Regions from separate parts of the Homo sapiens genome. Here regions 2, 3 and 4 are each linked to region 1. Evidence: fine-mapped expression QTL. A gene starts in region 1. Each other region holds a variant in brackets. All regions are shown on one strand. Distances are between the middles of the regions.

Region 1 (5,150 bases):
AGGCAAAGGTGGGAAGATCACTTGAGGACAGGAGTTCAAGACCAGCCTGGGCAATGTAGCAAGACCCCATCACTACAAAAATTTTTTTAATTAGCTGGGCATGGTGGTATGCACCTGTAGTCCCAGTTACTCAGGAGGCTGAGGTGGGAGGGTTGCTTGAGCCCAGCAGGTCGAGGTTGCAATGAGCCAAGATCTTACCACTGCACTCTAGGTTGGGTAACTCTTATCTGCCACAGACATTTCAAGCACCATCAGATCTGTTGCTCATGTGGCCCACATAGAAAAGTAGCTTGCATAGCAGCATTACCTGTTTCAGAATCTTGTTAGGTTCTCAGTCTTACTTAACACTGGCAGTCTTGAGTTACATAGTAATTGGTTTAGAAAAATAATGTCCAAATGAGGTATATGTTGCCTCCAAAGTGGCATCTCTAAATGCTCTGAATTACTTAATGCCTAGAAGTTTCACTGAGGTGACAGCCCTCTGAATTTTTACATTTGGGGATATATTTCCTTCTCTACCACCTCCACATGCCTTATCAAGGTGACTATAGTATTTGCTATTTCCTGCTCATCAGGGAAAATCAGCATGCTATCATCAATGATAGGACACCAGCATGATATCCTATGGAATACAGCAGCAATCAAAGTCCTTGTGGACTAGATTATCACATAAAACTAAAGAGTTTATATTGTCTTGTGGTGATACCCTGTGAAGGTGTATTGCCAGCCTTGTCAGCTGAAATAAAATGGTGCTCGATAGCCCTTAACTAATAGATATAAAGAAAGAAGTATTAGCCAGCTCAATAGGTGCATATCAGGTGCTAGGGGTTATGCTGATTTACTCCAACAATGAAATCATATCTGGAAGAGCAGCTGCAACTGGAATCACCATCTAATTAAATTTATATTAATCTACTATAATTCTCTAACATCCATTTGTCTTCTACATAGGCTAAATGTAAATGGGATGGTAAGGTAAGGTAAATGGGGTGTGATGAGAATCTCCACCCCTGCATCTTTCAAGTTCTTGAAGGCAACAGTAATCTGTGCAATTCCTTCAGGAATGCAGTATTACTTTTGATTTATTATTTTTGTATGTTGATAAAGTTCTAGTGGTTTCTGCTTGGCCTTTCCTACCAGAATAATAGCCTTATGTCCGAGGGTCAGGGAAACACTGTAGGGATTCTGCCAGTTTGGAGTATATCTATTCAAACTCTGCATTCTGGAACTGACGAAATAACTACAGTGTGAGTTTGGAAACCCAATGGGCTCACTGGGTATTGTGTGATCCTAGCTAAAACCTGGAAATAACCCAAATTTTCCATCAACAAATGAATAAACAAATTATGGTATATCCATACAATGGAATACTACTCAGAAAAAAAGAACAATAGATACACACAAACATAGGTAAATATCAAAATTATTGTGCCGACTGAAAGTAGCTAAACAAAAGGAGGACATACGGTGTGGTTCCATGTGTAGAAAAATCAAGAAAATGCAAACTAACCTATAGTGACAGGAAGCAGACTGGTGGTTGCCTAGGTATTGGGAATGGAGACCCAAGAGAGACAAATTCCAGAGGGTCCCGAGGAAATTCTGGGGTGGCTTAAGTGGGTCCATGACATTCAGTGATGTGTTGGTCATGACAGAATGGCAGAAGCAGAAACTCCATGGCAGTGGATTGAGAAATGATGAATAATGAGGAGTCAGTGGGTCCTATGTAACTGTATCCAGAGGCTTCCTGAGGAAGGACTAAAAAAGATACAGTGATATTGGTTAGCAACATACTTCATGGAATCTCCTCCTGGGTGCTGTTTGGGATTCCACTTAGCTTAATCCAATGAGCTTGTCCCCCTCCGCTCCTTCTCCTGCACTGATTCTGCTCCTGGAGTGGAATTTACCTGCTTTTCCTCCTTGCTAACATCTCCCAACCTTTATTTTCCAGAGCAAAATAAACCTTTTCCCCTTTCTCAAAATTTTCTCCCTTTCTCAAACCACACCAGTCCAAGCTAAGCTCTTCCACTTCAGGACTCTTATAAGGGCATTATTACCTGTATCACATTATATGACATGCTCAATTAAATTCTGCCAAAGTTGAAAAGTACTAGTGTTAAGTGTGTAGAAACTGGCATCAGACTATCTGAGTTTGATTCCCCCTTTGTCATGTAGTGGCTGTGTGACCTTAGTCAAGTAACACAGTCTCACTGTGCTTCAATTTCTCCAGCTATAAGCGGATATAACAGTATCTCCTGTTATGAAGATTAAAGGAGTTACTACTGTTACAGAGTTTAGAACAGTGTTTGTCACATCCTAAGCCCTAAGAATAGTGATAAAAATCAATTTCTGTTCCTGCTCCAGGAAGTTTCACGCTCATGGTTAAGAGGGATACAAAGATATATGTGGCATTTGCCCTAGACTCAAGGAGCCAGTAATTTCGTGCTGGTCGGATTTAGATTTCACAGCGATTTTCTATATGCCCTGGCCCAGAGGCCTCAGTACTTGGGCAAGTTTGGCACGAAAGGCCAGAAAGTCCATTTATAATGAATGGCCACTTTTTAGAACCTGTTTGCAAGGCAAAAGAATGGTGACTGCCAGAATTCAAGAGGAAGAAAGGGTGAAGCCTTTTTGGAGAACGCAGACGATGGCCTTTTTGCAAGGTTTTGGAAGATTTTCGTTTCAACGGACTAAAAACTACTGCCAATAGCCTCTAGACAGGCCTCGAAAGGCAGGGGAGGCCCTTCAGACCCCATTTCCCCACTGCCCGTGACCCTAAGGTGGGCCTGGCCTCAGGCCCCGCCCCGCCCCGCCCCTGCAGGGTATCTGGCCTCAGGCCCCGCCCCGCCCCGCCCCGCCCCTGCAGGGTATCTGGCCTAGGCCCCGCCCCTCCCCGCCCAGCGCCCCGCCCCTGCAACGTGTAGGCCTCGGCTCCAACGAGGCCCCATGGCTCCGTCCCCGCCCCATCGCCCCGCCCCTCCCGGGAGCCCTGTCTTCTGCCGTGCGCTGAGTGTCCGCGTCGCCCTCGCCGCAGTCGCGGGCACCCCGCTCGGCGTCGGTGCCTGAGGGAGGCCGCGATGGCGGCCGAGGCCCTGGCGGCGGAGGCCGTGGCGTCGCGCCTGGAGCGGCAGGAGGAGGACATCCGCTGGCTGTGGTCGGAGGTCGAGCGCCTGAGGGACGAGCAGCTGAACGCGCCCTACAGCTGCCAGGCGGAGGGGCCGTGCCTCACGCGGGAGGTGGCGCAGCTCCGGGCCGAGAACTGCGACCTGCGCCACCGCCTGTGCAGCCTGCGGCTGTGCCTCGCCGAGGAGCGGAGCCGCCAGGCCACGCTGGAGAGCGCGGAGCTAGAGGCGGCGCAGGAGGCCGGCGCACAGGTAACCGGGCGGTGGGGACACTGGAGAGGACGCGGGCGGGGCGGGCCGAGACGGTGCGCACCGAAAGGTTTTCAACTGCGGGGGCAGGTGCGGGGGCGCCCCGGGGGAGTGCCCTCCCAGTGCCCTGCGGCTGGCCCGCCCTGCCCTGCTCGGTGGTCCCGTGTGGCCTGGGGAGCCGCCGGATTTCCAGCAGTCGCCAGACTTAACCAAATGCTGTTGATTTCTCAATTCGTCCATTAAAGAGCCTGCCACGCATCTTTTTCAGTAGCAGAAATAGTGTTTTCATTTGTTTGAAAAAATGCTGGAGTGTTTAAAACTCATTCTTTCCTTGGTCAGAAAGACTAACAGCTGCGTATGTAAACTCTCATTCCCTCTGGTTCTTTTTTGTTGTTGGGTTTTTTTTGGACGAGAAGTTTTCGCTTTTTGTGCTCTTGTTTTGGTGGTTCATCTTGAGAGGATAGCTGTATATTTAACATTTTTATTTAATACAGTATTTTATGATTTGTAGAAAGGATAAATTATCTTCTTTTAACATCATACTTTCTGAGTCCTGAAGCTTCTCAGGCTGAGATGTTCTGCAGTCCTTTAGGAAGGACAGCTGCGGTGAACTAGCAACATCTTCAGGAAATAGTGCATTTGATGTGGCGGGCAGCAACCACACATTTTCCAGCCACATTATTTGTTTAAAGTTCAGGACAAAAGGTTTTCAAGAGCACAATATATTAAATGTGCTTAGCAACAGTGTGACAGGAAGGACTGAACCCTGGAGAATGACTTGCCCACTGAGAGCTGTAGCTGGTGGTCAGGAGAGCCCAGCTATGAGCCTCTAAACACGGGGCACTTGCAGCCTGCTGGCATGACTCTCTTCTTAAAATGTGTTGCTTTTTCTTGCCATTGATGTGAGTCATTTATAATTTATCTTTCAGCCTCCTCCTAGTCAAAGCCAAGACAAGGACATGAAAAAGAAGAAAATGAAGGAAAGCGAGGCTGACAGCGAGGTAAGTTGTTGCTGTGGAAACAATATAAAATACTACCTGTAATTTTAAATATGTGTATATAGTTAATTACCTAGGATTTCCAATAAAAATTACTGATTAAATTATTATTTGGGTCACATTAGTGTATTTAAAACTTTTCAAGCCTTAAATATGAGATGTCTTGAGAAATGAGCTGCCCATGTTTAATAAACACGTGTATTTAATCTATTTAAGTTGTGCTACTAGAGTACTAGAGTTGGTTTTTTTTGTTTGGTTGGTTTTTTTTTGTTTTTTGAAGGCGGAGGTTTGCTCTTGTTGCCCAGGCTAGAGTGCAATGGCATGATCTCGGTTACTGCAGCCTCCACCTCCCAGGTTCAAGCGATTCTCCTGCCTCAGCCTCCTGAGTAGCTGGGACTACAGGTGCATGCCACCAAGCCCGGCTAATTTTTTTTTTTTTTTTTTTTTTTTTTTAGTAGAGATGGGGTTTCACCGTGTTAGCCAGGAGGATCTCGATCTCCTGACCTCATGATCCGCCCACCTTGGCTTCCCAAAGTGCTGGGATTACAGGCGTGAGCCACCGCCCCCGGTCTTTTTTTTTTTTTTGTATTCGAGAAACTAGCTACTTTGCTTTTGTATATAAAGCATTAAAACAATCAGTAAGTATTTATCTAGCATCAACATTTGGTAGGAGTGAAGAAGGAATACCTAGGCCCAAAGAAGTTAGTCTGGTTGAGGAATTCAGGCAGACTCAGGACAAACAACTAGAGAACAGAGTACGATGGTATACAAGTAAGTGCTGTAA
Region 2 (5,150 bases), 66 kb after region 1:
CCCACACTCCTAGGTACCACCTCTTGCCCTCCAGCCATCCTTCCTTCAACCCATATTGTTTGCCTTTGGGGTTCCCTACAGCCACTGAGGAGGAAAACATGTAAACCTGATTCATAAATGGCACAAACTCAAAGAGGATGGCTCAGCAGCACAGCCCATTTAGGATGACAGTGGGGAAGGGAAGTGTCCTAAAGTGCAGAATTTTGAGTGGTGCATCTTGTGGTCTTTTTTGAGTGGTGCATCTTGTGGTCCTTTTTGAGTGGTGCATCCTGTGGTCCTTTTTGCCCGGAAGGAAGAATGGCCGGAGATAAGGAGTTACATGGATGCACAGGCTCTAGTTACTGCTTTGGCCACAGAGTCAAAGATTTAGAACTAATTAGATTGAAAAACAAATTACATAGATTTGGGAAGCAGAAATGTGGATGATCACTCAGAATGGGCCAACAGAGGTGGTATTGCCACCAAAAGGCCCCCGCTGTTGAGGAATTTTTCAGTATTCCAATACAAGAGGACCCATTCTGTTAAAATCAGCTGCTTTTTCCCCTAGTTGTTGCTCAATGGCTCATGGGCAAAGTGGCCACTGGTGGATAGGCATGGGCTCAAAGACATGGACTTTGCCTCACTAAGTTCCATCTGGCTACATCTCTTCTGAGAATTCAGGTTGCCATCAGTCAGTGATTAATTGTGATCCCCCGGGATGGTACCATAACCTGGGGTAATAGCCAGTGGTCTTGTAGCAGGTTGATTACGTTGGATCCCTTTCATCATGTAAGGAGCAATGCCTCATTCTCACTGAAGAGAGACTCACTGTGGATTTTGCTTTGCTCTTCTTTGCTGCCATGCTTCTGCCAGTGGCACCAAATATGTACTTAGGTGCTGCCAGGAACACAACAGTGCTTCTGACTATGAAAGAGATTTTATAGCAAATAAGTAAAGCATTGCACTGACATTAAGGGATTCACTACTATCACCATGCATTCAGAAGCAAGTGGCTTTACTAGCAGTTATAGCACCAGCTGGCAGACAACATCTTGTGATGATGTATCCTAGTATGTGGAAATGCTGCAAACCAGCAACCACCTGTGAAATTTCTACCTCCCATTCCATTTTTAGAAATTGGCTAAGCATCTGCTCATGCAGTTTAGCTCTCTCTTCAGAAACTACTGCCCCCACTGCTACTATTGCCGGGCACAGTCCCTGCAGCTCCCACTGTGGACACTGGGCACCGGATGATACTGCTAGGGTCACTGCAACCAGTTCCTCCAAAAGCTCCATGTCTCTGCATCACCTTTCCTTGCCATAATGGATTCCATGTGGTGCCTCCTTCTCCACTCTGTCTTAAGTCAGAGTGCCATGTTTATACATTAGCAGAACCTAGATCACACCCATGCATACTACCATTCATGTCCAGCGAGACTGGGGAAGCAAATTTTTGAGCAGGAAACATAAGGTGGAAAGTTTCCCAAACAAAGTGTCTTCCAAAAGACCTGGGTAGCTAGAGAGTCTGTGTATATTCCTGATATTTTGTGATCATAGAGAAATATACTTAGGTATCATGGAGTTTCTAAGCTGTTGAAGTTACAGTTAAGCCAAAAGTATGGGTATGAATATGTATGCCGCCTGAGTATGAGTTAACATGTTTATATTTCTTTCCAGTTGGTTTTAAATAGTTTACCATAGGTAAGAGATGATGGTGTTTTGCATTAGAATGGTTGCAGTGAAAGTGGTTTAAAGAAAAGAGAGAGAACTAGTGAAATAGGAGATGGAGAGGGAGACAGGAGGTGGTTGGGGCCAGTGCACTGAGCATGCCTTCCTTTGTCGCAGAGACGGAAGTATACTCCCTGCACTTCATACATCCAGACTTCAGACAGCAGTCAGCCTTGTGGGGAAATCTCCCCAGGAGCCAAAAGTAAAGATGGCTAAAGTGTGGGTCCTTGAGAGGAGTAGGGCTGGGGATGGGATAAGGACAGAGCTCAAAAGGAAATATGTAGTTGCCATTATATACCCTGTATTTCTGTGTTCTACCATTTATCATGTATTGTTTTGTGTTTGTAATTTGAGAATAAATATATAAATATGCACATTTATAAAATGCTATCTGAAATAGTCCTCCTTGCATGTCCTTTCACCTTCAGACTAAATACTCACTATGACAGGGAAAGGGCAAACATGTCCCACAGCGGACACTGTTTATACCTACCCTGCCATCTTTTTTATTCTAGAAAAATTATATTTTGAAATAATTGTAGGTTCGCATGTTGTTCTAAGAAGTTATATAGAGGCCGGATGTGGTGGCTCACGCCTGTAATCCCAACCTTTGGGAGGCCGAGGTGGGTGGATCACCTGAGGTCAGGAGTTCAAGACCAGTCTGGCCAACATGGTGAAACCCCGTCTCTACTGAAAATACAAAAATTAGCTGGGTGTGGTGGCAATGGCTGTAATCCCAGCTACTCAGGAGGCTGAGCTAGGAGAATCACTTGAACTCGGGAGGCAGAGGTTGCAGTGAGCCGAGATCACGCCACTGCACTCTAGCCTGGGTGAGCAAGATTCCATCTCAAAAAAAATAAAAAAGAAGTTATACAGAGAAGTCCAGCACACTCTTTACCCAGTTTTCCTCAATGGTAACATCTTGCAAAACTAGATACAATATCACAGCCAAGAACTAGACATTGAGACTGTCCACCAACCTTGTTCCGATTTCACCAGCCTCACATGCACTCATTTGTGTGAACGTGTATTTAGCTGTGTCACACGGACAGATGGTGTAAGGCCACCAGTCAAGGCACAGGACAGTCCATCACTTGTAAGGCTCCCTCCTGCTGCCCTTTTTTCCCCACACTCAAACCATCCCACCCTGTCCTCCTATCTGACAGCCATGAACTTGTTCTCTAGCTCCATCATTTTGTCAT[A/G]TAAAGAATATTACATAAATGGATTTACAGAGTACACAAACTTTTGAAGTAGGCTTTTTTTTTTTCACTCAGTGGAATTCCCTTAAGAGCCATCCATGTTGTTTTGTTTCGAGATAAATTAGTTGGTTCCTTTTTTTTTTTTTTTTTTTTGCTGATGGTGTTCCACGTTCCACAGTGTGGATGCACCACAGTTTGGCCATTCACCCGCTAAAGGACATTTGGGGTGTGTGTTTCCTGTTTGGGGCTATTATAAATAAAGCTGCTATGGACGTTAGTGAGCAGTATTGTGTGTGAACCTGCGCTTTCATTTCTCTGGGACAAATGCCAGGAGTGCAATTGCTGGGGCAGACAGTAAGTGCATGCTCAGCCCTTTGGGCTGTCTGCCAGCTCATTCTACCTGCACTTGTGCTATCAAAATTCCAAAATTCTCCTTTCATTTACTTTGCTGCCTTCAAACTTTAATATAATTTAGTTTTCTTCCATGCTGCGCTACTGAAACTGCCCTCTTGTGAAGTCTTTAAAAGAATCTTTGGTTATTTGAAAATCATGTAATAAGTAGCCATTATTACACTTTGAAAATACATATTTTATATATATTTTTCAGGCCTTTCTGGCTATCTCCTCGTCAGGTGATGGTCATCCCTGTGGGGCCAACTTGTGAAAAATATGCACTTCAGGTAAAATCAGAGGTGTTTAAAGTACATAATAATCTTGCATGTATTCTGTGTAGGTCATCGATTTGGAGTGTCCTTCATGCTTTAAAATATTGCAGAACTGACACATTAGCTTAAACCGTGTTTTCAGCAGGTGGGAGTAACACACGAATCATGTCTCTGCAGCTGTCTCAGAACTATTTCATTCTTAATGTTTTTTGAGAAATTAGTATTTTAAAACATATCATAATTATTCATTTCTACACAGCTCTATTAGGGAAGAATATTATCTGTTGCTGTGTCACAAGTGACCCCAAAACTTAGCAGCTTTAAACAACAAACATTGATGATCTCACAGTTCCTACGAGTCAGGGTCTGGGAGCAGCTCAGCTGGTGGATTCTGGCGCAGAGCGTCTCCTGGGGCTGCAGTCAGGCTGTCAGCCAGGGCTGCGGAGCTCGGGGCTCGCTCACAGTTGGTGGATGCAGCTCCTCATCACCTGGGTGCTTGCTTGCCTGAATGTCCTCACTGCATGGTGGCTGGTTTCCCCCAGAGCAAGTGATCTGAGAGAGATGGGAGCTGCAGCCTTTTATAAACTAGTCTCAGAAACGATGCGCCGACACTTCCGCACTTCTTTATGGTCACGCAGACCCGCTCTGGTATAGTGAGCAGGGAACTATACAAAGGTGTGAATACCAAGAGTGGGGAACAACGGGGTCTTCTTGGAGGCTAGGTACCATAATGTAACAGTAAAGGTGTTTCATTTTCTTCTAGGTATCCAGTGAATTTTTTGAAGAAGGATTTATGGCTGACGTTGACTTGGATCACAGTTGTACACTAAATAAGAAAATACGAAATGCACAGCTGGCTCAGTATAATTTTATTTTGGGTAATTTAAGTTTGTATATATTTTTCCAAATGCTTTTTTTTCCCACTTCAATTCCAAAAGACCAAATAAGAAATATGGTTCAACTACTTGATTATCATGATTTGTCTATTTAATACTTACACAAAAGGAAGAGTCCATAGCATTCCTAGCTTAGCTGTTCCTAGGTACTCTTTGTTGTTTGCTGGAAGAAGAGTTGTAAAGTTTCACCTGAATCCCCTGGGATAGTTTTACTAGCAATAGTTCATATTGCAAGCAAACAACGAAAACAACTCTGAAAATGATCCCATCAGTAGAATTATATACTTTATATTTCAGCCTCACAGGCCTGTAATATTTTCCCTCACTTTTCTGGCTTATTAGGAAACTTTGGGATTAAACTAACAGAAAGAAAAGATCCCAAATTTAAAATGATCTAAAGGAAAAGATTTAGATGAAAAGTAAAATGTCCTTTTAGCATATGACTAATTAGATGCAGAATCTAAAATTTAGGCTTTAAAAATGATTCCAAAATTAAGAGAAACTAACACTGATATAACTGCAGGCACAGTATTGCTATTTCTTGTAAGTTGAGAGTCTGTAGAAGGCGAAATAAATATGCATAGCATTGTTCTATTGACAGTGTTTCAATGATAATGTTTGACACCAGAGTAGGTATTGTGCTGTTTCAGTCAGGCTTCTTATGGTGGCAGAAATCTCAACTT
Region 3 (5,150 bases), 81 kb after region 1:
GTGTAAAATGATTTCAGGCTGTGTGCTCTTCTGGGACTTGCTTATTTCCTAAACATTGTGGCTCTAGGATTCATCCACGTGACTTCTCTTCTTTTTTTTACTTCTGTGTAATAATCTATTGTAAGATTGTATCACAGTTTATTCTCCAATATATTTGGTTAAGTGCTGTTTTCCGCTGTTGTGACTGTTCAAATTTCTTTGCCTGTCTCCCAATGGCACAGGTGCAAGAGCTTCTTCAGCATGTACTTTCCAGCGTGTGTCATTCTTTAAATGGCTGTATTGACTGGCATTCCCACCCGCGCTATGTAACTGTTCCTGATGAGCCATATTCTCTCCAAGAGTGGTTATTCTTAAATTTGGTCTTAAAGTTGTCTAGACTTCTTTTATATTTTGGATATTACCTGTGCTGTCCCTGAAACCCTCTCCCAGATTTTGATTTTTTTTTTTTTTGCATTATTGTATATTTTCATGAACAGAACTTTAAAAATATAATTACTGGAAGTTATTAGAGTTAGTCCTTTTTTGTGGTGGTTTTAAGAAATCTTTTTCTACCCCAGGTTAATAAAGACAATTTGCTACATTTTCTTTTGAAAGTTGTAAGTATAACATTTCACATTTAGGTTTAGAATCCACCTGGAATTGGTCCTGGTAGATGGTGTGAGGTAGATTCTACTTTAATTGTCCCCCCACATGGATGGCCAGTTGTCTCAACTCTTCCCTGTTGATCCGTGTGTGACCTCTGTCATAACACTCATACATGAAGTGTTTGTATATTTCTGGTTCTTGACTTTCTCTTCTTTTCCTATTGGGTGATTTTTATGCCTCAAGACTACACTGTCTTATATACTCGTAACTTCCCCGTAGGTCTTGATATGTGGGTGAGCATTTCATGTTCCTCACGTTGTAATCCTAACTTAGCTGATTTAAATATTACATCTATGTAGATAGATGGTAAGCGCTTTGTACTCTTCACTTCAACATGTATTACCGTAAAGAGAGTTGACTTTTCACATTTTAAATTTTGAGCCCATTTGTTACAATTAAGTCTTTCTGAGAGTATTTTTTATACCCTGTATTTTTCTTTCTTTTTTTTTTTTAAGGTAACCGTACTTTTCCCAAAATGCTATATTGCAATTGGACTGGAGGCTATAAGTGGTCTACGGCTCTGGCTCTAAGGTAAGCCTTGTTACTCGTAAGTGTAAAAGGCCGTTTGCATTTCTTTGGGATTGGTGGAATCTTCAGACATTGAGCTCAGTCCCCTTCATTCTTCACTCAGATCCTACCACGTGTGTTAGACTCTAGCAAACAGCTGGAAGAGTTTAGATGATCAGACCAGTACCTCCGTGGAGTTGACTGGCAGGCATGTTAGCTTTTCTCCCAAGATGCCTGCACATTACGTTTACCATTCTGAATGTACCACGAATCAGTAAAATGCTGTGGACTATCCAAAATAGGCAGTTTTATGATGTATATCTTTAATTTTAAGTAACTATTATAAAAAGTAATACATGATGAACACTGAAAACTGGAAAAATGAAAATGACAAAAACATTAAAAATTACCTATAATTTCATCAGCAGCAGATAATTATAGGCTTATATTTCTTACATAGAAATGTGCTGTTTGTTAAACTTCTCAACAGTACTTTAAGAAATTATAGCAGTTCTTCCCACCAAAGGGAAGGGCAGGTAAGACCCTGGTTAACTGATTAGTGAAAAGGTTACGCTGCCTACACTTGAAGTTTTGAGTTCGTGCCTGAGACCCTGAGGCCTGCAGCATTGCAGCCATAGGGCAGGATTTCTCAGCCTCATCACTGCTGACGTTCTGGGCTGAATGAGTTTTTGTCTTGGGGCTGTGCTGTGCATAGCAGGGTGTTGAGCAGCATCACTGGCCTCTACCTACTACTTGTCAGTAGCAAACCCCCCATCCCTTGCAGCTGTGACAGTGTGTCTCCAGATGTTGCCAGGTGTCCCCTAGGGGACAAAATTGCCCCTTGCTGAGAACCACTGCATTAGAATTTGAGCTGAGGAAAGAAGGATCTTGCCTGGCAGGAAAAGTGTAACTGAAAAGTAAAAGAGGGTGCCAGGATAGAAAATGAGACTAACAAAAATAAGATAGGGCGGGCGCGATGGCTCACACCTGTAATCCCAGCGCTTTGGGAGGCCGAGGCTGGCGGATTGCTTGAGGTCAGGAGTTCAAGACCAGCCTGGCCAACATGGTGAAACCCCATCTCTACCAAAAATACAAAAGCCTGCCATCGTGGTTCATGTCTGTGGTTCCAGCTGCGTGGTAGGCTGCAATGGGAAGATCACTTGAGCCCAGGAGGAGGAGGCTGCAGTGAGCTGGCATTGCACCACTGCACTCCAGCCTCAGTGACAGAGTGAGATTCTGTCTCAAAAAAAAAGATTAGTAACCATTGCTGACAATGGTTCAAATTAACAACTGGCTTTTTAAAAAAATAAATAAATGTTTGAAACTTGGAATAATTTTAATTTACAGAAAAGTTGCAAAGATAGTAGAGTTCTTATATACCCCTAACCTGGTTTCCCTACATTGTTAACCTCTTACAGTACTATACTGTAACATACTTTCAACAATTAAAACTTCTCAGCACTCAACATGGTTTTTTTTTTTTTTTGCTTTTTTTTTTTTTTTTTTTTTTTAACGGAGTCTCTCTCTGTCACCCAGGCTGGAGTGCAGTGGCTCAATCTCGGCTTACTGCAAGCTCCACCTCCCAGGTTCACGCCATTCTCCTGCCTCAGCCTCCCGAGCAGCTGGGACTACAGGCGCCCGCCACCACGCCTGGCTAATTTTTTGTATTTTTAATAGAGACAGGGTTTCACCGTGTTAGCCAGGATGGTCTGGATCTCCTGACCTTGTGATCCGCCTGCCTCAGCCTCCCAGAGTGCTGGGATGACAGGCGTGAGCCACCGCGCCCGGCAACATGGTTTCTTTTAAAATCATCACTGTAATGAGATGATGCCCAAGGTTTGCTTCAGGGTACTCTGGAGGGGAAAGAGGAGGGTTTTGATGAAACACAGCTGGCCAAGTGTTGATTATTGGAGCTGAGTCATGGGTACTGTTCTCTTTACTTTTTATTGTTAGGTGTTTAGAAATTTTCCATAATAT[A/T]GTTTCAGTATTATTAGATCTTAGAATTTAAAAGATCCTTAAATCTTTTAAGGATTTATTCCTAACATTAAGATTTTAGAGATGAATGAAAAAATAGACTGAAAACATGGATGACTTGATCCAGGTCGTCCAGGTGGTGGTGAGCTCCTCCTGACTCCAGCCCTGACCCCGTGTTAGTGCACTTCCTGTTAGACTGGGTCTTTGCTTTATTTTGACTAAAAAGCAATGAGATTGATAACTTTAAAAAAAGAAAACATTGGTTTTTTAGTACAGCTAAAAATTGTATGTTTACTTTTGACATTTAAACTGTCTTCCTGCCCGTAATTATTTGGTGGTGTCAGTTTGTGAAATAGTCACTTGTGTTCCAGTTAAGGGCTACGATCAGGGGAAGCCCTTTCTCAAATCTGACATAATGTGGTGATTAAACCGTGACTGGCCACAGCTGGGGTGGAGGTGGTCTCATGGAATCCTGTCTGTTTGCCATCGCAGCATCACCCTCGGTGGGTTTGGAGCAGACCGTTTCTACCTGGGCCAGTGGCGGGAAGGCCTCGGCAAGCTCTTCAGCTTCGGTGGCCTGGGAATATGGACGCTGATAGACGTCCTGCTCATTGGAGTTGGCTATGTTGGACCAGCAGATGGCTCTTTGTACATTTAGCTGTGGTGTGTGCTTCAGAAAGGAGCAGGGCTTAGAAAAAGCCCTTTTGTCCGTAGGAGTTGATGTGGTGTGAGTGATATATTTCTATGTTTTTAATGTACAGCATCTGTACTTTGTTTGCCTTGATAAAGGTAAGATAAATGAAACGCTGAACTATGCTAATCTGGAATTTGTTTTTATTTGCCTGAAATATATTTTTTTCTGTGAAAAAATTAAAACGTACTTAAGCCAGGAGAATGAATTATACAGTGATTGAAAATCCATTTAATTCCTATGACTTTTGTTTTGTATTGCCCAAGTCAAACTACATCACTTGTATCTCCAGCCCAAATGTAGTCTGCCTTGAAAAGTCTTTCAGCTGTGACTGCAGGAAGTGGGAGTGTTTTTATTGTTAGCTAATTGCTGTGACTGCAGGAAGTGGGAGTGTTTCTGTTGTTGGCTAATTGAAGTTATTAGGCTCAGCTTCAGTCATGTGTAAGTTTTGCAGTGTAATACATATGTAGTCTGGTCTGTATATATGAAAATTTGAATTAAACTGCAGAATGTTTATGTCTAGTTATGGTTTAAATTTTCTTAGTAGTATATAAAAGGTAAGAGTACTGAAAAATTAATAAAATTGCAAGTTAAGAAATACTGTGGGCCTGTTTTCTATATTAAATATAATCTTGAATAATCATTACAACTTACCTTTATTGTTAAGAATAACATTTTTATCTTTCAGGGCATTACTCCATTCTAACAGAGTCATAATTGGCTGGTTTATTGACACAGTGGAAATATATAAATGTTTTTGAGTATAGATCTGTTATAGACCCTTTATCGGGGAAAAAAAACTCAGTTATTCAAAAAGATTTTTACTCAAGCTTGCTTTTGAAACATTTAAAAACTTAGCATTTTTTCTTTCAAATGTGGGTATCTGAGTTACTGCTTTTTAAACACTTGTGTGTATTATCCAGAAGACTGTTAACCACCATATCATATCTAGAAGCTATAAAATATCTGCATATTTCATTCAGCAGATGATTTATTGATTTCAGTTTACCTGAAAGGTTTCAGTGATCACTTGCTGCTGTTTAAAGCACAGTCCTTTTCTTAGTTGAGTGACAGTTCCATCTCTCGTCGCTAGGTGGCGCATCCCCATTACATTTGCTTCCCCATTCTAGTTCCAGAAACAGAAAAAAAAACTGGTTTTGTTTTGTTTTGTTTACGAGGAACTTGTCACAGAGCATGAGCAGTTCTTCAGGATGGGAGTAACCCGGTTTATGTGGACCTTTCTTTCTGAGAGCAAAGACACACTTTTTGTATCCGTTAAACTGTTGATTGAGCAGGTGTTTCTTTAGAAGACGATCTTTTCTTCAAGAAGTAG
Region 4 (5,150 bases), 21 kb after region 1:
TATAAAGAATGATTAACGAATGATTTTCTTCTTCTTTTTGCAACATTATACTTCCAAAGTCCAGTGTGTTTTATACTCACTGCACATCTTCTTTCAAATTAGTGGCATTTGAGGCCAGGTGTGGTGGCTCACACCTGTAATCCCAGTACTTTGGGAGGCCAAGGCAGGCGGATCACTAGAGGTCAGGAGTTTGAGACCAGCCTGGCCAACATAGTGAAACCCTGTCTCTACTAAAAATACAAAAATTAGCACATAGTAAAAATACAAAAATACAATACAGGCATGGTGGTACATGCCTGTAATTCCAGCTACACGGGAGGCTGAGGCAGAATCGCTTGAACCAGGGAGACGGACGTTGCAGTGAGCCAAGATGGTGGCACTGCACCCTAGCCTGGGTGAGGGAGTGAGACTCTGTCTCAAAAACAACAACAACAACCACAAATTAATGGCATTTGAAATGCCCAGTAGCCACGTGGCTTGTGGCCTCCATGCTGCACGGTGTCGCTCAAGGCTGTGAGCTCTTTGTATCCCTCGTGTCTCAGCACCTAGAACATCAGTAGATGACCTTTCAATGTTTCTTGAAGAAAAGTAGAGTTGTTTTCTTCATTTCAACATTGTGTGTAATAATGTGTAAATATGTTTTTCTTCGTAGTACAATAAATTTAAATGCCGCATTCTGAATGAGAAAGTTAACACTGCAACTACCACCGTGTACAGGTTTGTGTCCACACATGGTAAACGCTGCTCAGTGGTAAACTTGAAGGTGTTAGCAGTAGAGGCCGAGTTTGTTTTCTGGTTGGAGATCGATTTTTCAAGTTGTGTAGTTGATAATCTACCGTAGTTACAATCTTCAAAATGTTTTCACTAAAGAGAAATGATTATTTTCCCCTTTTTAGTAATCAGGACAGTACTGAGACCCATATTTTGTTTCCTGGGTGTTAGCTATAACAGGATTTTTCTCCATGTGAGTGATACTGTTGGGAAAGGAGTTTCTATTCTGTCCTTCCACGTTCTTATTAATGTGGCAGTGGGGGCCATTACAAGCCATCTCCTCGGCAGTGATTCTCTGCCTCATACTTACTGTCCAGAGTGCAAGTGTAGAAGAGTCTGCCCCATTGTCCAGAGTCCAAGTGTACAGTCTTCATGCATTAGCAGGATACTCATGATGAGACCAAAAGAAAATACTGGGAAACAAAGGCAGGATCAAATGTAAGAGGAGACAAGTGAAGTTAATACCAGAATCACTTAGCTCTGTTCATTTAACCTCAGGTTCCTGAGCACCTTTTTCTTTATTCGTGTGTATACGCCTTATATGTCATTGCTGTTCCCCTTTCCGTGTGTTCCGGCCATCTGGGTGCTGCTAGGACTATCACAGTACCGCCTTAGAAGACCTGGTATTTATTTAATTATAACCACAGATATTCTCCCTCATGGTACTTACTTTCGACAGTCAAGGACTTATGGTTCTCTGGTTTAATTGTACTGTAAGTAAAATCATATCCCCTTTGTGCAAAGCTATGCACGGTGCATTTCTTAAAGCTTAAAAATAAATGAAAATGTAGAAAACAGGCCAAGTTTTAAATTTCTGGCTTCTAATGCTTGAGCTCTTGGGTTTGAGAACCTTACTTACGTCAACATTGACACTTTTTGTAGTTTTTCAATTTGAATGGCTTGTATTTAATTTTTGAAAAAAAAATAAAGCTTTTCTTTTATGGCTTTCTTTTTTTTTTTTTTTTTAATTTTTTGAGATGGAGTCTTGCACTGTTGCCCGGGCTGGAGTGCGATGGCGCGACCTCGGTTCACCGCAACCTCTGCCTCCCAGGTTCAAGTGATTCTCCTGCCTCAGCCTCCCAAGTAGCTGGGATTACAGGCGCCCACCACCACGCCCAGCTAATTTTTTATATTTTTTATTAGAGACAGGGTTTCACTATGTTGGCGAGGCTGGTCTCGAATGCCTGACCTCGTGATCCACCCGCCTCGGCCTCCCAAAGTGCTGGGATTACAGG[T/C]GTGAGCCACCACACCCGGCCCTGTGACTTTCTATGTAAAGATTAGAGTATTGAAGCCTTTCATGCTAATTTGGCATTCCTTCCCTTCATCTGAGTGTTGTTTACAAGCTCTCTCCCTAGAGAACAATACACAAAGACTGACCATTGAGAGAGATGACATTTTCGTGTTTGCCACTCTGTAAGCCAGTCCCTTTTTGTATTCATTGTAATTTTTAAGTTTTTAATCAGAGAATTGCCTAGTTTCTTTCAGAAGATGTTCTGTGGTTTTTGAATCTAGAGGGCAGAGTGGACTCTGAGGCTAGATGAATCACCTCTCTCCTTCACCCTAAATTAAAAATGGCATTGCTACATATAAATAAGTGAAGCTCTACCTAAAACATAGGATATTATGGCTTATAATGAATAGTCCAGAACACTGTAACTGTGCCTGAGCATGTCCTAAATATTTCATTATAGGTGCGGTCCATTAATTGACCTTTGCAAAGGTCCACATGTAAGACACACTGGAAAAATTAAAACCATCAAAATTTTTAAGGTAAGGATTGATTTTTTTTTAATACAGTAAACTTAAGGTGCACTAGCTATTAAAGGATTTTAATCATATCTTATTCAATCATATCTTTTGTAGTCTGAACATCATGATATTTTAAAATATTTCATTCTTATTTGATGAAAACTAATAAAATCATTTAGAATTTTGATAATTAGAACACTATAGGTGGCTTTTGTTTATCATTTTACCTTATTGTAAGTGTTATAACATTTCTTTTTCATACGATATTTTATTTTATTTTTTATTTTTCTGAGACAGAGTCTTGCTCTGTTGTCCAGGCTGGAGTGCAGTGGTGTGATCTTGGCTCACTGCAATCTCCGCCTCCTGGGTTCAAGCGATTCTCCTGCCCCAGCCTCCTGAGGAGCTGTGATTACAGGCCTGCACCACCCCACCCGGCTAATTTTTCTATTTTTAGTCGAGATGGGGTTTTACCACATTGGTCAGGCTGGTCTCGAACTCCTAACCTCAGGTGATCCGCCTGCCTCAGCCTCCCGAAGTGCTGGGATTATAGGCATGAGCCACTGCGCCTGGCCTTTTTCATACACTATTTTAAAATATTGTTCTATATACTATGGTTTTCTTGAATAGCCCTGATGTAAGCAAGAATATTTGTCTGCATGTGAAAGTAATGTATTGCGGCATAAAGAAAACAGCAGGAGGGGATATGATGTTGTAATGGAGAAAACATCGCTCTGGGATTAGGAGGCATGGGACTGACTTGGCAGTCCCAGCCTTTCTTGGCTTTGATTTTCTTACAGGTAAAATGGGGCTGGCTAATGGCACTGTTCTTAATCATTGACTGTAGGTCAGCAAGACCGACCTTTACTTCCCCATACCTACTGTCTGTTCTGCCCCATCCTTGGTGATTATGATTGCTGCTTAGCCTTCCCTCCTTTCTGTGTGCTCTCACTGTCATTCCTAGAATCCATAGCAGACTCTACATAATTTGCTGGTTAATGGTATAATTTAGGCTGGGAAGGTTTAGTTAGAATCCATTTTAAGATTGTTCCCAGCACTACAAATAGTCTTCTTTAAGCTTTGTTGATTTTGTTTGTTTGTTTGTTTGATTTTGAGACAAGGTCTTGCATTGTCACCCAGGTTGGAGTGCAGTGGCACAAACACTGCTCACTGCAGCCTCGACCTCCTGGGCTCAAACAGTCCTCCTGCCCCAGTCTCCCAAGTAGCTGGGATTACAGGCATGTGCCATCGTGCCTGGCTAGTTTTTGTATTTTCTGTACAGATGGGGTTTTGCCACGTTGTCCAGGCGAGTCTCAAACTCCTGAGCTCAAATGATCTAACCACCTTGGCCTCCCAAAGTGCTGGGATTATAGGCATGAGCCACCATGCAGGGCTGCTTTGTTGATATGATAGTGGAAAATTGCATTTGTATTTAAGAGCAGTTTTACTTACAACTGAATGTATGATATATTTACCAAAATCCTCTTTGATATTTAGAATTCCTCAACATATTGGGAGGGCAATCCGGAAATGGAAACATTGCAGAGGATCTATGGAATATCCTTTCCTGATAACAAGATGATGAGAGACTGGGAAAAGTTCCAAGAGGAAGCAAAGAACCGAGATCACAGGAAGATCGGGAAGGTATGCCCCACATCTTAATCACTGGAGATGTAATCATAAGCCAACATAGGAATGTTTCTGTCTCACAAAACTAAGTTGCTTTAAAAATAAGATTTCTTCTTCTTCTCTCCTATTTTGCTGGCACTCACAGTCCGCTGCTCAGTGCTTTCATTTTAATACCCCAGATGTCTTCTAACCTCTTTCCTTCCTGTATCTTTTATTAATTTTTGAAAATTGTACCCTTCTCTTATTTTTGTCATGATAAAAAATAAAGTTGTTTTTGGTGAAACCCCACCTCTACTAGAAATACAAAAAAATTAGCCAGGCGTGGCAGCACGCGCTTGTAGTCCCAGCTACTCTGGAAGCTGAGGCAGGAGAATCACTTGGGCCCGGCAGGCGGAGGTTGCAGTGAGCTGAGATCGCTCCACTGCACTCCAGCCTGGGCGACAGAGTGAGACTCAGTCTCAAAAAAAAAAAGAGTTGTTTTTTACATTCTGTGCACTTTATAGCATCCTTTGTATCTGGGAGACAGAGCAGCGTGTAGAAGGAAAAGCTCAGACTGGAAAGCAGCTCGGCCTGAGCTTTATGCCCAGTCCTTGTACTCACTAGTTGTGTTAGATGATGGGCAAGCTCCGTGTCCTTGTCTTCCTTGCTGGGTAGCCTTGCAGGGTGGCTGTGAAGACAGAAACTGGGTGACGGTGCCTGGTACAGGATAGGCTCTCAGTAGGCAGCAGCCATGATGATCATCATCACCTAAAGCCCACCTCCTGCAATGAACTTTTTTGGTCTTTCTACCGTGTTGTCTCCCCATGAGTGCCGTACTCCAAGTGTGCCAAGTAAGAAAATTCGCAGAGAATAGCAGAAGGTGAAGTAAAAGCTAAGTTCAAAGCTAATTAGGCATAAATATGATTGGAAATTTTACATATGCTGTTGCATGCATTTAGGTATAAGTGTTGAATGGCCTTGGAATGTCTATTACTAGAGAAGATGGAAATAACTGAGTATTATAT

Which allele goes with the higher level. Positions count from the first base shown, and alleles are read on the strand shown. Sizes are in standard deviations (SD) of each study's normalised expression.
For the expression in cerebellar hemisphere of the gene that starts at base 2,989 in region 1, A is the low allele of the variant in region 2 and G is the other (moderate effect, 0.51 SD a copy in GTEx).
For the expression in cerebellum of the gene that starts at base 2,989 in region 1, allele A in region 3 goes with a lower level than allele T (moderate effect, 0.66 SD a copy in GTEx).
As copies of C replace T in region 4, the expression in tibial nerve of the gene that starts at base 2,989 in region 1 goes down (moderate effect, 0.49 SD a copy in GTEx).

What was found. PIP is the estimated chance that this variant, and not a neighbour inherited with it, causes the effect.
Region 2: its variant is fine-mapped to the expression of TARS3 in cerebellar hemisphere (GTEx, PIP above 0.99). The same link has a PIP of 0.9 or more in uterus.
Region 3: its variant is fine-mapped to the expression of TARS3 in cerebellum (GTEx, PIP above 0.99). The same link has a PIP of 0.9 or more in gastroesophageal junction.
Region 4: its variant is fine-mapped to the expression of TARS3 in tibial nerve (GTEx, PIP above 0.99).

Annotation. Positions count from the first base shown.
Region 1 is chr15:101,722,312-101,727,461 of GRCh38, reverse strand. TARS3 (threonyl-tRNA synthetase 3) reads left to right here and starts at 2,989. Exons shown (of 19, transcript NM_152334.3): 1 at 2,989-3,371; 2 at 4,298-4,369. The coding sequence starts at 3,075. RefSeq lists a silencer at 2,704-3,593.
Region 2 is chr15:101,656,221-101,661,370 of GRCh38, reverse strand. It overlaps TARS3 (threonyl-tRNA synthetase 3), which reads left to right. Exons shown (of 19, transcript NM_152334.3): 17 at 3,514-3,586; 18 at 4,335-4,449. Among named protein-coding and RNA genes, the nearest start is that of TM2D3, 6.4 kb to the right of the region's middle. The variant A/G (reference allele first, on the strand shown) is at 2,910.
Region 3 is chr15:101,641,113-101,646,262 of GRCh38, reverse strand. TM2D3 (TM2 domain containing 3) reads left to right here. Exons shown (of 6, transcript NM_078474.3): 5 at 1,101-1,176; 6 at 3,619-4,415. The coding sequence ends at 3,784. Among named protein-coding and RNA genes, the nearest start is that of TM2D3, 8.7 kb to the left of the region's middle. RefSeq lists a silencer at 4,821-4,980. The variant A/T (reference allele first, on the strand shown) is at 3,130.
Region 4 is chr15:101,701,250-101,706,399 of GRCh38, reverse strand. It overlaps TARS3 (threonyl-tRNA synthetase 3), which reads left to right. Exons shown (of 19, transcript NM_152334.3): 7 at 653-717; 8 at 2,463-2,541; 9 at 4,015-4,161. Among named protein-coding and RNA genes, the nearest start is that of TARS3, 21 kb to the left of the region's middle. The variant T/C (reference allele first, on the strand shown) is at 2,007.